3 separate regions of the Homo sapiens genome follow, and all the other regions are linked to region 2. Evidence: fine-mapped expression QTL. A gene starts in region 2. Each other region holds a variant in brackets. All regions are shown on one strand. Distances are between the middles of the regions. Region 1 overlaps SRP9 (signal recognition particle 9). Region 2 holds the start of ITPKB (inositol-trisphosphate 3-kinase B). Region 3 has its middle 33 kb from the start of ITPKB.

Evidence for each region. PIP is the estimated chance that this variant, and not a neighbour inherited with it, causes the effect.
Region 1: its variant is the best candidate, but not a certain one, in a credible set for the expression of ITPKB in sun-exposed skin (GTEx, PIP 0.83).
Region 3: its variant is the best candidate, but not a certain one, in a credible set for the expression of ITPKB in monocytes (TOPMed, PIP 0.60).

Annotation. Positions count from the first base shown.
Region 1 is chr1:225,785,634-225,788,292 of GRCh38, reverse strand. The region is part of intron 2 of SRP9 (signal recognition particle 9); the gene reads right to left. Among named protein-coding and RNA genes, the nearest start is that of SRP9, 9.1 kb to the right of the region's middle. The variant A/G (reference allele first, on the strand shown) is at 1,552.
Region 2 is chr1:226,738,128-226,740,935 of GRCh38, reverse strand. It overlaps ITPKB (inositol-trisphosphate 3-kinase B), which reads left to right and starts at 1,654. Exons shown (of 8, transcript NM_002221.4): 1 at 1,654-1,895. RefSeq lists enhancers at 1,648-1,897, 2,521-2,808 and a silencer at 2,118-2,357.
Region 3 is chr1:226,770,431-226,773,238 of GRCh38, reverse strand. No RefSeq gene overlaps it. Among named protein-coding and RNA genes, the nearest start is that of ITPKB, 33 kb to the right of the region's middle. The variant C/A (reference allele first, on the strand shown) is at 1,639.

The sequences.
Region 1 (2,659 bases), 950 kb after region 2:
TTCCTGAGTAGCTGGGACTACAGGCACACACAACCACACCTAGCTAATTTTTCTATTTTTAGTAGAGACGGGGTTTCTCCATGTTGCCCAGGCTTGAAGATATTACTTTTAAATCAAACCAAATTCTTCCTTGTTAGCAGTTAAATTCTTCACTAGATACTTAAGATCTGCTTATGGTTGGTCATAAAGCCATCTGTTGTAGAATCTTCAAAAACAGCAACTTTAAGCTGGCAGCCCTTTCCTCATTTTGTAGTACAGATCCACTTTTCTTCAGCCCATCTTAAAGGTTCACATGAGTTTTAAACAACAGGAACTAATGATCCTATAATAAAAGTCAACAACTTAAATAACTTGAAGTTCAACCTCATCATGCCCAACTGATTTTTTTAAGTGAGCCTTTTAAACAACTCACTTAAAAAAATTTTTATCCACGCATTGTACAAATTTGTGCGGCAATCTTGTAAAAAGGCCATATTAATCTTCATCATCAAAATTTTAGCACATGTCCTATGAGAGAATGTACATACCTTCTCACTGAAATTTCTGACAGAAAAAGATTTTAGGTCCATAGAAGACAGTATTCTAAATCAATTATGGGATTAGAAAAATGATGGATACATGGGATTATAAAAAAGTCGAAGTTAACATGGATCCTTAATTATATTCAATCATTAACAGGGCAAAAAGAGCCATCAATTGGAGATAAGGCCTTTTGTATTAAAATTCGTTCTGCATTTATTCCCTTATTTTATTTTTTTTGAGACCGAGTCTAGTTCTGTCACCCAGGCTAGAGTGCAGTGGCACAATCTTGGCTCATTGCAACCTCTGCCTCCCAGTCCCAGGTTCAAGCGATTCTCCTGCCTCAGCCTCCCAAGTAGCTGAGATTACAGGCACCCACCACCATGCTAATATTTGTATTTTTAGTAGAGACGGGGTTTCACTGTGTTGGTCAGGCTGGTCTCGAACTCCTGACCTCATGATCCGCCCACCTCAGCCTCCCAAAATGCTGGGATTACCAGCACGAGCCACCGCGCCCGGCCTATTCCCCTATTTTTAAGACAGGACATAGGGGTTTTTCTTCAGCAAGTATACCTAACCACTCTGTGACAATCACAATTAAAATTTTTCTGTGTGGAATGTCAAGATTTAAGAAGTACTTAGTGGTTCACACCCATAATCCCAGTGGTTTGGGAGGCTAAGGCAGAAAGATGGCTTGAGTCCAGGAGTTCCAGATCAACCTGGGCAATATAATGAGACCCTGTCTTGACAAAAAAATTTAAAAATTAGCTGAGTGTGGTGGTGCACACCTGTAGTCTCTGCTATTCAGGAGGCTGAAGCAAGAGGACCGCTTGAGCCCAGGAGGTCGAGGATGCAGTGAGCTATGATCATGCCACTGCACTGCAGCCTGAGCAATAGAGCAAGACACTGTCTCTAAAAAAAAAAAAAAGCAATCAACCAACCAATCAACAAACAAAAGAATACATGTACTCAATCTACCAAGGGTAAGCACTCATGTTAGATACTTTCATATATTTTTTTACTATCACTATG[A/G]TACTTTACAGATGAGGAAATTGAGACCAGAAGGCTAAATTTTTGGCCTAAACTTTTCCAAGGCCAAAATGCTAGTAAATGACTAAGCTAGGATTCACATCTCTTCAATCTATGTCTAGTATACTACATCTCGATTCACTCTTCCTTTTCCACATGTTTAGCTACTCACTACATTCAATTGGTTCTTAGAAGACATGGTAATCACTAAAAGGTCTAACTTCATGCAGTCTCATCATAATGGAACCCTGAACACAAATACAATATATGACCAAAGACAAAAAGTGATTTTTAAAATCACTCTATAAAATTTTCAAAAGAACTAACTATTTAAAAAATGTTTACTGAGTGCTCTCTGGGTCAAGACATCATAGTAGGCAATGGAAATAAGACATGTAAGAATATTACTGATCTATCTCTATTGTCTTGAAGGGCAGTCTATTAAAAAGACAAATGTGATAAAAGAATTGTGATACAGCACAAAAAGCCAAAATGAAAAGCAAGAAATGAAGTAATCCTCAAGTTGGGTTTTGAAAGATAAGCAGCAGTCTGGCCACATTAGGGGTGGAGGTGGGATTCAATATTGCAAAGGAGGAAACAGAATGTTTGAAAGCACTGAGGCCTAACACATCACAGCACATTAAAGGAGCTCTTACATAATACAGAAATGACAGAGATTAGAGAGGATGCAAGGGTGGAGTTTAAAGGTTTCTAAGCAAGGGAGTAACAATCAAATTAGCCTTTCAGAAATCACTCTGGGGCTGGGCGTGGTGGATCACACCTGTAATCCCAGCACTTTGGGAGGCCGAGGTGGGTGGATCGCTTGAGGTCAGGAGTTCAACTCCAGCCGCCTGGGCGACATGGTGAAATCTCATCTCTACTAAAAATACAAAAATTAGCTGGGTGTGGTGGTGCCCACCTGTAATCCCACCTACTTGGGAGGCCGAGGCAGGAGAATTGCTTGAACCCGGAAGGCAGAGGTTGCAGTGAGCCAAGAATGAACCATTGCACTCCAGTCTGGGTAATAGAGCCAGACTCCTTCTTTAAAAAAAAAAAAAAAAAAAAGTCCAGGCACAGTGGCTCACGCCTATAATCCCAACACTTTGGGAGG
Region 2 (2,808 bases):
CTCAGATCCTGAATAACTGCTCAGAGACCTGAATAACTCTGGGCTCTTTTTTTTTTTTTTTTTTTTTTTTTTTAGATGGAGTCTCACTCTGTCGCTCAGGCTGGAGTGCAGTGGTGAGATCTTGGCTCATTGCAACCTCCACCTCCTGGGTTCAAGCGATTCTCCTGCCTCAGCAGCCACCCAAGTAGCTGGGATTACAGGAGCGCACCACCACGACCTACTAATTTTTGTATTTTTAGTAAAGACAGGGTTTCACCATGTTGGTTAGGCTGGTCTCGAACTCCTGACCTTGTGATCTGCCTGCCTTGGCCTCCCAAAGTTCTGGGATTGGGCTTTTTTTTAAAAAAGCCCCATTGAGGGTAGGAGGGTAATTAGGTTCAATTCTTCCATTTCTAATTTTTAAAAATTATAAAGTTTTCAACAGTGTGTGATTCTCAGGTATTCTTGGCTAGAAGATCTCTTGATTTCAGATTTAGCATGAGCCTCTTCCTGATGGAGCAGCAGGTTGCTTTGCTCACTTAACAGTATTGTTACATAAACAAGCAAGAGATCTGTGTGCTACAAGTAAAGTCAAAATTTCCATCTGAATTTCAGCTAATCATGATATAAGGACCAATTCAGGCTTTGGATGTTTCAGTCTCCTGAGCCGTGCAGCTGTGTTTTCCCTCCTTTCACTAAATGCTGTAGTTTAAGATTTAGAGAATTATGTAAAACACACTGGCAGTGCCAGGGCTTAGAAGGGGTAGGATCCCCTGCCCAGTAATGTTGGCTGATGTTCTTTCTCCCTTTTTTGCTGATAGTAGGGGAGAAAGTTTCTTGAAAATGATCCAGTCTACAGGAGACAGTCTACAAGGGTCTACAGGAGCAAGAGGGGTTTCAGACGTTACCCAAGCCTTCTTAGTTTCAGGACTATGCTTTTTCTTAAAATAATTCTGAGAATTAAGTGCAAAAATATGCGAATGTCACATGTGCCGTGTGCATTTATAAATAAATGTGACATGTAAAGGTGTATTTATATATCTACCAATTGCACTGCAAAACCATCCCCAGCTCATAGACCAACCAGTCTTCCAAAATACTACTGTGATGCACTTAAAACCTGCAACTCTGCAGGAAGGTGACCTCAATGTACCTTCTTTGAATTTGCAGAACTGTGTACAAGAACACAAACTGTTTATACAGGATTGTAGCCTTTTTTAAATGCTAAAAAGGTCCCCATGATTTGCTTTGTTTAAGACATACACTCAAAACTTTATTAAAAACATTTTTCAAAAATAGTTTCATAAAGCTAGACACATCAGCAAGCCTCGATTGAGGGGTGGAAAATGAATTGTATATCTTTAAACCGCAGAAGTTAAAAGCCTTTTTTGTTGTTGTTAGCTAACAATGGAAACTTTTTTTTAAGTGTTTCCCTCCCTCGTCTTGCCAAGCAATAGAAAAAAAAAAAAAAGAAGAAAAGAAAAACTTGTTCCGCTGAGTTCAACCCCAGACAGGCTCACAACTTCCTTCCTGCTTTCCTCCCCCAAGCCTCCGCCTTTCTCCCTCCTCCCTCCTCCACTACCCCCCCCCCCAACAACTTTTCTTTCTTTCTTTTTTTTTTTTTTAATCGTGCATTGAACAAACACTGAAGTAGCCCGGAGCAGACACTGACAGGGGCAGTATCTCCACGGTCGAAAAGGGCGTGCAGGGCCGGCTTGGCGTCGCCACTGCCGGGATCGCCGGGCCCCTGAACCGAAGAGCTTTCCCCCCTCTTTCGCACTCCTCTTTTTTGTCTTCCATAGCTTGTGAGAAAATAATTTCTGAGCATTTTTACTTTTAAAGCCATCTCGTCCCTACGAGGTTTGCGCCTCTGGGCATGTAGTCTACACAGGACCTGAGAATCTGAGAAACTGCAGGTAAGTTTGGCGGCCTTTTAATGGCTCTCGCCTCTGAACAACCCTCTTTTCCCTCACTTTCTGCTCTGGAGCGAATCTCGGCGTTCCTGGTTCCGAAACAGGGCAAAGGGGTGGGCTGGGGAGGCAGGGAAGGGGGTTTGATTTTGGAGGGTGACATGGAGTGGCGGTGGGGAGAAAATAGGGAGAGACGAGGTCTCCGCATTTCTCCTACCCGCCTTCCGGGCCGCTCACTCCGCGCCGCCTCCCTCAGCGCGCTCCAGGAGTCCCCAGGCTGGGGTCTCGGGGCGGCTCTGCTGGCGCCGGGCGAGGCTGCCCGGGATGCGGAGAAGCCCTGCGCTCCGCGGCGCTGCCCTGGGGTGTTAGAGCGCCGGCTCCTGGGAGGTTTGCAGAGCTAGAGGCTCTGTGCACCTAGGGCTGCTGCCCGGCTGCAGCCATGCACGCCCCTAAGTTCCTCCGAGTGGGCGCGGGTCCGGGAGCCCGCAGGGGCAGTCGCGTCCTCGGCAACAGGGCGCGCTGAGAGCGGACTCGCTCCGCGCGCGTGCGGCGTATACACACACGCGTGTATACACACACACTCACAGACACCCCCCCATAGGGGACGACGGCAGGGGGGCAGCAAGTACTGGTTCCGGTAAAGAGAACGTGTAGAACCTCGGTGCGCCCACACTCACAAAACACTTGTCTAGGGATAGGCGACAAGGCTAGCCCTGAAAAATGCTTCGGCTGCGGCCCCGCTGCCCGCCCAGGCCTTCGTAGGCCGAGAGACACAGCCCCAAGGCTAGGGTCAGGAAGGTAAACGGCGGGCACGCGGGCGCCCTCCCAGATCCGGGCGCTGGCAGCGGCTCGGGCAAGGCAGGTCCCGCTTAGGTTCCCTCCGAGCCGGTCGGTCTCTGATGCCCCGAGAGGGTGGAGC
Region 3 (2,808 bases), 32 kb before region 2:
CTAAAAATACAAAAATTAGCTGGGCATGGTGGCACATGCCTGTAATCCCAGCTACTCGGGAAGCTGAGGCAGGAGAATCGCTTGAGCCTGGGAGGTGGAGGTTGCAGTGAGCCGAGATAGGTTACAGAGTGCTGCTGCAGGAGACTCCGTCTCAAAAAACAAACAAACAAAGACTTATTTATAATCATTTATAATCATTCAGCATATGCAAAGTCTCAGGGGACTCAGAAAGCGATCTGGGTTCTACTTCCAGTTTCTAGTTTCTGTACTAACCACGGGACCTTGGACAATTCCTTTCACCTTTACAGGCTTCTGTTTCCTCATCCTGAAAACAAAAGCACAGTCTTAGATCATTTGTAAGGTCCCTCTTGCTGTGCAACTCTACGGTTTATCTGCCAGAGGGATTCCTTCTGTGTGCCTTGGACTACATGCAGTATCAGGATTACTTACTCCAAAAGGCAGTTGTTCCTTTGTTTGCTGGCCTCCGGGGAAACCCAGACATTTTATGATGTCCCTGCTATGGGGGTGGCAAGGAGTGCCTGGTGGCTGGTGCCCTCTGCCTCCGGCCTGCATCATTAGCATTGGCCCAGCCTCTTTGGTGGAGGTCATCCCACCCTTGTTATGTGGTCAGACATGCTACCTTCAGGGAAGTAGTCACAAGACAATAGTTCCCTTTGACAGAGAGAAGTCTTTTCAACTATGGTAGACAGCCCTTGAATTCTATCATGGGGTTCAGTGGGTAGCTTCTTTAAATCATGGCTTACTTTCATTAACTTAGTCAATAAATATTTAATGAAGGACAATAATATCTACCTCATCGTATTACTGTGAAGAGTAAACTAGTTCATATACAACTTTGAATAGTGCATGACAGGTAATAAATTCCAATAAATATTAGCTATGGAGTACCTACTACATGCCAGGTACATGCTAGGTGCTGGAGTGCCACAGGAGCAAGACCAGTTCCTGGAGGAACTCACGGATGGATGGATCTGTGAGATGGATGTGCCTACAAGAGTGTGCTGTGAGAAGAAATACAACACAGGAAGAATCCAAAGCCATGGGCATGCAAGTGAGGGAGGTACTGATTCTTCGGGGAAGGAGAAAACAATGGAGGGTGAGGGGGACATCTGTCACTTCCCAGTACCCAGCATCACAGCCCTGCCTTCTTCACATAGAATCCATCTTTCTTATGGGGGATCTATTCCATGGAGTCAGGTAGGACTGATCCCAGAGGAGGGCAGGTGGTCCAAGGTTGGCCATGAGGGTATTCTGTCTTCCTGCTGACAGTCACGGGCTCAGGGATGTGCATGGGGCACATGCTGGGGCAATCCAAAAGCTCCTGGGGACTTTCACCAAACCTATTAGAGAAGCGTTCACTCTCTCTTTGTCTGGGATCATGAGACTTAAGGATAACACACATCTGGAGCTCCCAGTGTGACTAACTTTAGCTTTAGGTGGAGGAAAACTAAATCTAAGTCAGAGGAGAAACTGGAGAGAGAGAGAGAGAGAGAGAGAGAGAGGCCATGACACTCTGAACCTCTGGGTCCTCTTGTGCCTGAAGCTACAACCACTCCCAGTTACATGAATCAATAAAGTACCCCTTTGCCCACTGTATTAGATTTTTGGCATTTGCAA[C/A]CATCAGCCTTGGCTAATACAGAAAGTTTTTTTAAAGAAGATAGGACATGTGAGCTAGAGTTTGAAGAACATGCTCACCAGTCAAAAAAGTTCTATATTAATCTTTGGGATTCAGGAACAAATCATAGTTCCCAGGATTTTTTGGGATGTCTCAAAACTTATAAATTGTTCTGTATTTTTATAATACTATTATGCTGGGTGCAGTGGCTCATGCCTGTAATCCCAGCACTTTGGGAGGCTGAGGTGGGGGAGTTCAAGACCAGCCTGGGCAACATAGTGAGACTTTGTCTCTACTAAAAGTCAAAAAATTAGCCAAGTGTAGTGATGTGAACCCGTAGTCCCAGCTACTCAGGAGGCTGAGGTGGGAGGATCACTTGAGCCCAGGAGATCCAGGCTGCAGTGAGCTATGATTTCATCACTATGATTTCTTCAGCCTGGGCGACAGTGCAAGATCCTGTCTCAAAACAAAACAAAACAAAAAAAACCCCACCGATTTACATGTTTTTAAATGATAACAGAGTGACCATAATAAGAAATAATGAGGTTGGGCTTGGTGGCTCACGCCTATAATCCCAGCACTTTGGGAGGCCAAGGTGGGCAGATCACCTGAGGTTAGGAATTTGAGACCAGCCTAGCCAACATGGTGAAACCCTGTCTCTTGTAAAAATACAAAAAAATTAGCCGGGTGGGGTGGCTGCGCACGTCTGTAATCCCAGCTACTTGGGAGACAGGCGGGAAGAATCGCTTGAACCTGGGAGGTGGAAGCTGCAGTGAGCAGAGATCGCGCAACTGCACTCCAGCCTGGGAAATGAGAGTAAAACTCCGTCTCAAAAAAAAAAAAAAAAAAAGAAACAGTGAATCATGTTCCTGTGTCAGGGTTATCATAAATGTTTCAAAAGTTTTCTGTTTCTATTTAAAATAATAATCATAATTGTTGTTATGAGAAAATGTATGGTACTTATAGATTATTTCAATAACATAAAAATAATCTCTACGTGATAAAGACATTTGATAACAGAAAACTAAAAGAGAAGATTAACACCAAATAAACAACAAATAAAAGTCATTAAAAGTTGAAAGACACTTTCACAAACACTAAAGCATTATTCTCAAAAGGAGACGTTTAAACACAGCATTAATTGCCCTACACGATAATCTTGATCTTTGTTT